Homo sapiens: one gene and its partner. The protein of the gene in region 2 purifies or fractionates together with the protein of the main gene of each other region. This does not show direct contact. Each region holds a gene or a part of one and is shown on either strand. Other genes may lie near its edges.

Region 1 (3,500 bases), on a different chromosome or scaffold from region 2:
TATTTTAGGTCATTCTAGGAAGAAAACAGCTGAAAGAGTTGAAAGTACAGTGAACTTCAGAGTGAGGAGTTAGGGGAGTTTCGTGTTTCAACCATATGCCTATATTACTTTAATAAATGTAATTTTTTTTAGTGTTTTTTAAAAGCAGAATTTTGTTAACAAAGAAAAAAAGCAGGGCCAGGCTTGGTGGCTCACGCCTGTAATCCCAGCACTTTGGGAGGCCAAGGCGGGCGGATTGCCTGAGCTCAGGAGTTCAAGACCAGCCTAGGCAACACGGTGAAACCCCGTCTCTACTAAAATACAAAAAAAAAAAAAAAATTAGCCGGGCGTGAAGGCGTGTGCCTGTAGTCCCAGCTACTCGAGAGGCTGAGGCAGGAGAATTGCTTGAACCCAGGAGGAGGAGGTTGCAGTGAGCCAAGATTGCACCATTGCACTCCAGCCTGGGCGACAGAGCGAGACTCCGTCTCTAAAAAAAAAAGAAAAAAAGCAAATGACCGTAGTGCTCAGCTCTGAGCAGGTCCTCAGGAAGGGCTGGCTGGATCTGCAGAGTTCTCCAGCCCAGGTGAATCCCACTCCCTCCTGGGCCCTCCTGGCCCCTCTTGGGCACTGAGAAGGAAGGGTGAGAGGGGAAATACAAGGATCGGGGGGGACTGCCCCATCACTGACTCTGCAGAGGCAGCTGCAAGAGAGGGGCTAGGACCCAGAGCAGTGGTGCAGGGACAAGGCAAGGAGCAGGCCCCGCTGCCTCTGATGCTAAAAGCTGGTGAACTTGGCCAGGCACGGTGGCTCACATCTGTAATCCCACCACTTTGGGAGGCCAAGGCGGGCAGATCACAAGGTCAAGAGATCAAGACCATCCTGGCCAACATGGTGAAACCCCGTCTCTACTAAAAATACAAAAATTAGCTGGGCGTGGTAGCACACGCCTGTAGTCCCAGCTACTCGGGAGGCTGAGGCAGGGGAATCACTTGAACCTAGGAGGTGGAGAATGCAGTGAGCTGAGATTGCCCCACTGCACTCCAGCCTGGCAACGGTCTCAAAAAAAAAAAAAAAAAAAAGCTGGTGAACTCGGGGGCAGCCTGAACTTCACTGCAGCTGCTGTACTGTTTGTAAACTCCCTGGGAGAGGCCAGGCCAAAGGGATAATCGCGTTGCTAGGAGATGTGCTTCACAGGGTGGCCGACTTCCTGGAGGACCTCTCCCCGGGCAGGGAGGCAGGTCAGGGCAGGCGGGGCCTGAACAAAGAGGCTTCTGGAGTGAGGGGTGCCCGCCAGCCATCTGCTGCCGCCTCTGGGGCACGGAGTGAGAGTGAAGCGGAGGCTCCCCTGGCTGTGTGCCCCGCCTTCTGCCATGCGCCTGTCTTTGGGGTCCCGCCGAGAAGAGAGCCCACACTTGTCCCCCGACCACACAGGAGAGGCCACCTTGGCAGGGAACAGCTTTGTGCTTCTGAAGGAACAGGTGGGCAGAGGCTGCCCCTGGGTACCCATGCGAGGCTGGCAGCTGAATGGAAGTGGATTCTCAGCCCCACACTTCGCCAATTCCAGCCTTTATGGTGCCCCAGGGACCCAGAGGTTTCCCTGGAGACTTGGCTGCTTCCAGAAATATCAGACACCAGAGCCCCAGTTAAGCCCTGAGCAGGTCCCCATCTGGCCTCAGTATTCTCATCTGGAAGGACAGGATGGAACGCCAGCCTGCGAGGAGGGAGCATGGGATGTTACTGAGGCCCCACATGGAGGAATGCAAGGCACAGGGCAGGGGTTTGATTAAGTCCCTTATTCATCCAAAAGGGAGGAAGTAGGCATCTCCCATGGGCCCGGCTCTGTCTGGGCATGGCTGCACCCCATCCTGCTCTGGCAGGGCTAATCATGCTCAGGAAGATGGAACACGAAGCAAGGGAGCTGCAGACTGTGGTGGGGCCGAGGACCTGGATGGGTGCTGGGAGTGAGAGTGGCGGGGAACAGACGGATGGAAAGGAGGGACCCCACGCAGAGCAGAAGAGCTTCCCAGGCCGGGGACACAGCACGTATCAAGCCCTTGAGGCTGGGAAGCACCTGCCTGATGTGGCCGCAGTTGGGGGTGGGAAGGCAGAAATATGAAAGGCTGGGGTGCAATGGGCTCCTGTTGGGCGCCTCCATTTTCTTGCCAAACCTAAAGGCATTTCCTGTGCCCTATGAGTTCTCAGGGATACACAAGTTTCAACGTGGAGAGGAAGAGAGACTCCAGCTGCTTGGGGGATGAGCATGCTTCACTCCAATATCCACAGAGTGCAGGCCTGGGGCAGCACCCTCCCAGGTCAAGGAAACAGACAACTTCTGGGCATGGCCAGAGCTGCTCTGCCTGAGATTAGGAAAACCACATCCGGTCACTTTACCTAAAACCAGCAGCACAGGTGTGGGTAGGAGACAGGAAACCTCACACTCTGAGAATAGCATGGGTATCAATGTAGGGGTCTTTTTTTTTTTTTGAGACAGAGTTTCGCTCTTGTTGCCCAGGCTGGAGTGCAATGGCACGACCTCAGCTCACCACAACCTCTGCCTCCCAGGTTCAAGTGATTCTCCTGCCTCAGCCTCCTGAGTAGCTGGAATTACAGGCATGCACCATTATGCCCGGATAATTTTGTATTTTTAGTAGAGACGGGGTTTCTCCATGTTGGTCAGGCTGGTCTCGAACTCCCGACTTCAGGTGATCTGCCCGCCTCGGCCTCCCAAAGTAATGGGATTTCAGGCGTGAGCCACTGCACCCAGCCCAATGCAGGGGTCTTGAGGAACCCCTCCTCTCCATTCCTGCTGGCCTGTCTAGGGCAGACCTGGGCATTGCTGGCCTCTAACAGATGAGGAATGCCTGGGACCTGCCCAAGACAGGTCAGAGGCCAGCTCCCATGAGAGCAGCATCCTGGTCTCCTTGTGGTGACTGTTTAGGGGCCACAGCCTCCCGCAGGGCAGCAGGGGTGAGGCTGGCTTCTCCTCTTGGCAACCCAGCTCCTGGCCTGTGGTCGGAGCTCAGGATGGGAGCAGGTGATGTCTCCACTCCACATCCAGAACCAAGTCCCCGGAAGGAATCGAGTCTTCTTCCTGGGTGGCACAGTAGGGCACCCACTCGTGGGACAAAGCCCTCAGAATTAAGACCCATGGGGACAGAGCCCCAGCCCTGCCACTGACTTGCCAGGGATCCCTGGAAGGGTCCCTACCCAACTGCACCTGGGGCCACCTGGGGTCTCTACAAACAGACCACTTGCTTGCTGCCCCCACCCTGCCTGAGACGCCAGCATTGAGAAGCGAGACCCAGGGGGAGGGCCCTTGCTTCCAGGTACCTGCCTGAGACGCCAGCATTGAGAAGCGAGACCCAGGTGGAGGGCCCTTGCTTCCAGGTACCTGCCTGAGACGCCAGCATTGAGAAGCGAGACCCAGGGGGAGGGCCCTTGCTTCCAGGTACCTGCCTGAGACGCCAGCACTAAGAAGCGAGACCCAGGGGGAGGGCCCTTGCTTCCAGGTACCTGTCTGA
Region 2 (3,500 bases):
TTCTTTCTTCACTGAGATCTGCACCCTGGTGTGAAAGTCCAAGAGGAATTAAACCATTCCAGAACAGACCTTTTGAGAAAGTCATTCTTCTCACCCCTAATATGAACTCTTCACTCCTCCCAGACAATTCCGCTAGTTATCTAAGCGCTTGCAACAGTTTATAGATAAATGATGGATTAACAGAAACTCATTGGGAAGCTTCTACGCAGAGGACACAATCATGGCGTTTGGAGCTCACTCTGCGATAGAGTCAGTATGGATTTCAGCTGGTGGATTTGTTCACTGATTAGCACATACACAGTGAGTGTTTACTGATGCCAGGCACTGGACTAGGTCCTGGGACCCAACGGTGACCAAAAACACACAGTGCCCACTGCCAGGAACAGAGTAGGGAGTGAGAACAATTTTTCTGAACCTCAACTTCCTTATATTTAAAATGATGATTTTTTTTCAATGTTGATGTCACTGATGCCTGGATTTATTTATGCAGTCGTGTGTCACGGACAGGCCCAAGTTCAGATGGAATCATACTTGCCTCTGATTCGTGACTTGAGCCGTGTCGGACCAGGACAAGGAGAATGTGCTAGAACCATGGCTCAGGGTGATGGTCTCAGTGCTGATTTCTATTTTTATGTCTTCACTTTGGAAATAAAATCCCAGTTTTCCAAAATAGGTGCTTAGTTTTCCATTGTTGGGCTTCTTGGCACCAACAAGCTGACCGTTGACTACAATTCCTACAGGAAAGAAAAAAATGATGTTTTCTCTTCTGTGCCATTTATTTTGCATGTGTGGGTACTATAATTCAAATTTATAAAAACTTGGCAATATTGGAAAATTATTATAATTTTGCTTCAAGATTTACATTAACATTTTCTTCTTTGTGATTCTCATTTTATAACATGTTAATATAACATTTATAAATTTTAATAAAATTTAATTTAATAATTTTATATCAGTTATAAAATTTAATTGTCAGTTTATAAAATTTAAATAATTGACTATCATATAGTATTTAAATTTTTTGTTGTTGTTTTTGAGACGGAGTCTTACTCTGTCACTCAGGCTGGAGCGCAATGGTGTGATCTTGGCTCACTGCAACCTCCACCTCCCGGGTTCAAGCAATTCTCCTGCCTCAGCCTCCTGAGTAGCTGGGATTACAGGTGTGTACCACCACGCCTGGGTAATTGTTTTTGTATTTTTAGTAGTGGGGGGTGGGGTTTCATCATTTTGACCAGGCTGGTCTCGAACTCTTGACCTCAGATGATCCGCCCACCTCGGCCTCCCAAAGTGCTGGGATTGCATGTGTAAGCCACCGTTCCTGGCTCATATTTAAATTAATTATATCACAACAAGATCTGCAAGTTCATACTCAGAGTATATATTTTGAACTATAATGGTTCAAAATAGTTAAGAATATATTTATAATTTAATTTCTCACTAATATCACTGAAATATATAGAACTTCTATTAAGCTGAGAAAGAAAGAAATCCCAGGCAGTGACAGGAAAGCATGACAATGACCTAATTGGTGCAAATATAATTTATTTTTATTTTACCTGATTCTGGGTCAGAAACCAGGTTGAGGATTTTTCCAGGTTCTGAGTCAATATTGAAACAAATGTTCTTTTGGCTTTTTGGTAGATAAATGATGAAATGTGGGTCATTTTCAACTGGAAAATATACAAAGAAAACGTAAACAAAATCATTAAAAGGAAGATGATTTTGAGCACTATGTCATTCCTGAACATCTTTAATTTAATCAGAACAAATATTTATTGTGCTTCTCCTACATGCTCGGTACTCCTCCAGGTCTTGGGGACCCAGTGGTTCATACTCCATTGTCCCTTTGTCACGGAGCCTTCTTCAGAACCCTATGTTATTTTACAAATATAGTGGATATTTATTTTGTAGCTAAAAATGTATGCACTAGACTAGATACTAGAGATAAAAAATGAATAAGAAAGACTTAAGGAATAAGAAATACACACAAATATGCACCCACAAATATAAGAAACATACATACACGTGTGTGAATATGTGTGTAGACAGAAAAATAGAGTTGGGTGTTTTTTGAGACAGGATCTCCCTCTGTCACCCAGGCTGGAGTGCAATGTTGCAATCATGGCTCACTGCAGCCTTGACCTCCAAGGCTCAAGTCATCCTCCCAGCTCAGCCTCCTGAGTAGCTGGGGCAACATCCATGTGCCACCATGTCTAGCTAATGTTTTGTATTTTTTGTAGAGATGGGGGGTCTCACTTTGTTTCCCAGGCTAGTGTCAAACTCCTGAACTCAAGTGATCCACCCATCTCAGCCTCTCAAAGTCCTGGGATTAAAGGTGTGAGCCGCCTCACCCAGCCTGGAGATATATTTTTTAAGGAGCCATATACAATGCAGGAAAACAAAGGAGACACACTATTATTGTTGACATACAGATTAATATGATTCAATTCCAAAAGCAATGAAGAATCAAGCTACTCCCAAGAAAGTACTCCTTTGTTATTGAACCTAATTATTTTAGATAATCCTTCCTTGCTTCCCCTCCCCTCCCGCTCCCCCATCCCCACTCTCCCTCTCCCGCTCTTTCCCATTTAACCATTCAACAAATACTTGGTGAAGGAAAAAAAAAATCTATGTGCAATCACTAAATTTGGCAATGTTTGGTGTTAACTATAAACATAAGTCATGGTCAGTAACTTCAAGAAAGTAATACTTTAGTGCAAGGGGCAGACATAATCACGAATGTAAGATAGAATGAAGTACATGGTGCAATAGTGGCTCAAGTAAAATGCTGTGAGAATGAAGATGAAAATGATTAGTGCCCCCCAGGCAAACAGCAAGGCTGAATGGAGGAGGTGGCTTCTGAACTGTCTTTAAGGTCAGAGGACAGCGGGGAAAGACAAAAGGCTAAGGAGGAAGAGATTTTATTCTGAGTGTACAGAATGAGGAAGGAGTGGAGGTAGAAGAGTTTATGATTTCTTTAGAAAATAACTCAATGCGACCAGAGGACAGGTTCTTGAAGAATGCAGAGAAAAAGAGCTAAAAGTAGAGATCACAGAGACCCTGAAACACCAAGAATGGGCCTTTATTCTGTTGAGCAGCTATTAAAGGTTTCTGAGAATAAATGTGACTTGACCCTCATTTTAGGAAAGTTGTTGGTGGCAGTGTTACTAAAAGTTTGCAGAGGAGTTACAGGAAGCTTGTGCAGTGGCTAAAGCAGTCACTCAGGCCAGAAATGTTCAGTTCACACCTCCAGGTTCATGCTCTGCAGTCCACAAATACATGGTTAGTTGATTGTTCTTGGAGCCAGACACTACAGGGCATTGTAAAAACACAGAACAGGCCAGGTGCGGTGGCTCACGCCTGTAATCCCAGCACTTTGGGAGGCTGAGGCGGGTGGATCACGAGGTCAGGCATTCGAGACCAGCCTGGCCAGCATAGTGAAACCCCGCCTCTACTAAAAATACAAAAAATTAGCCGGGTGTGGTGGCGGGCACCAGTAA

Evidence for each region. The genes of interacting proteins can lie anywhere in the genome.
Region 1: the proteins of ITIH2 (region 2) and TMEM184B fractionate together in Homo sapiens (co-fractionation; one large-scale study listed by BioGRID). This does not show direct contact.

What each region holds. Positions count from the first base shown.
Region 1 is NC_000022.11:38,242,011-38,245,510, forward strand, and holds part of TMEM184B (transmembrane protein 184B), read right to left. Parts: intron 1-3,500. UniProt on the Homo sapiens protein: May activate the MAP kinase signaling pathway.
Region 2 is NC_000010.11:7,741,316-7,744,815, reverse strand, and holds part of ITIH2 (inter-alpha-trypsin inhibitor heavy chain H2 precursor), read right to left. Parts: intron 1,671-3,500; coding exon 1,557-1,670; intron 735-1,556; coding exon 536-734; intron 26-535; coding exon 1-25. UniProt on the Homo sapiens protein: May act as a carrier of hyaluronan in serum or as a binding protein between hyaluronan and other matrix protein, including those on cell surfaces in tissues to regulate the localization, synthesis and degradation of hyaluronan which are essential to cells undergoing biological processes.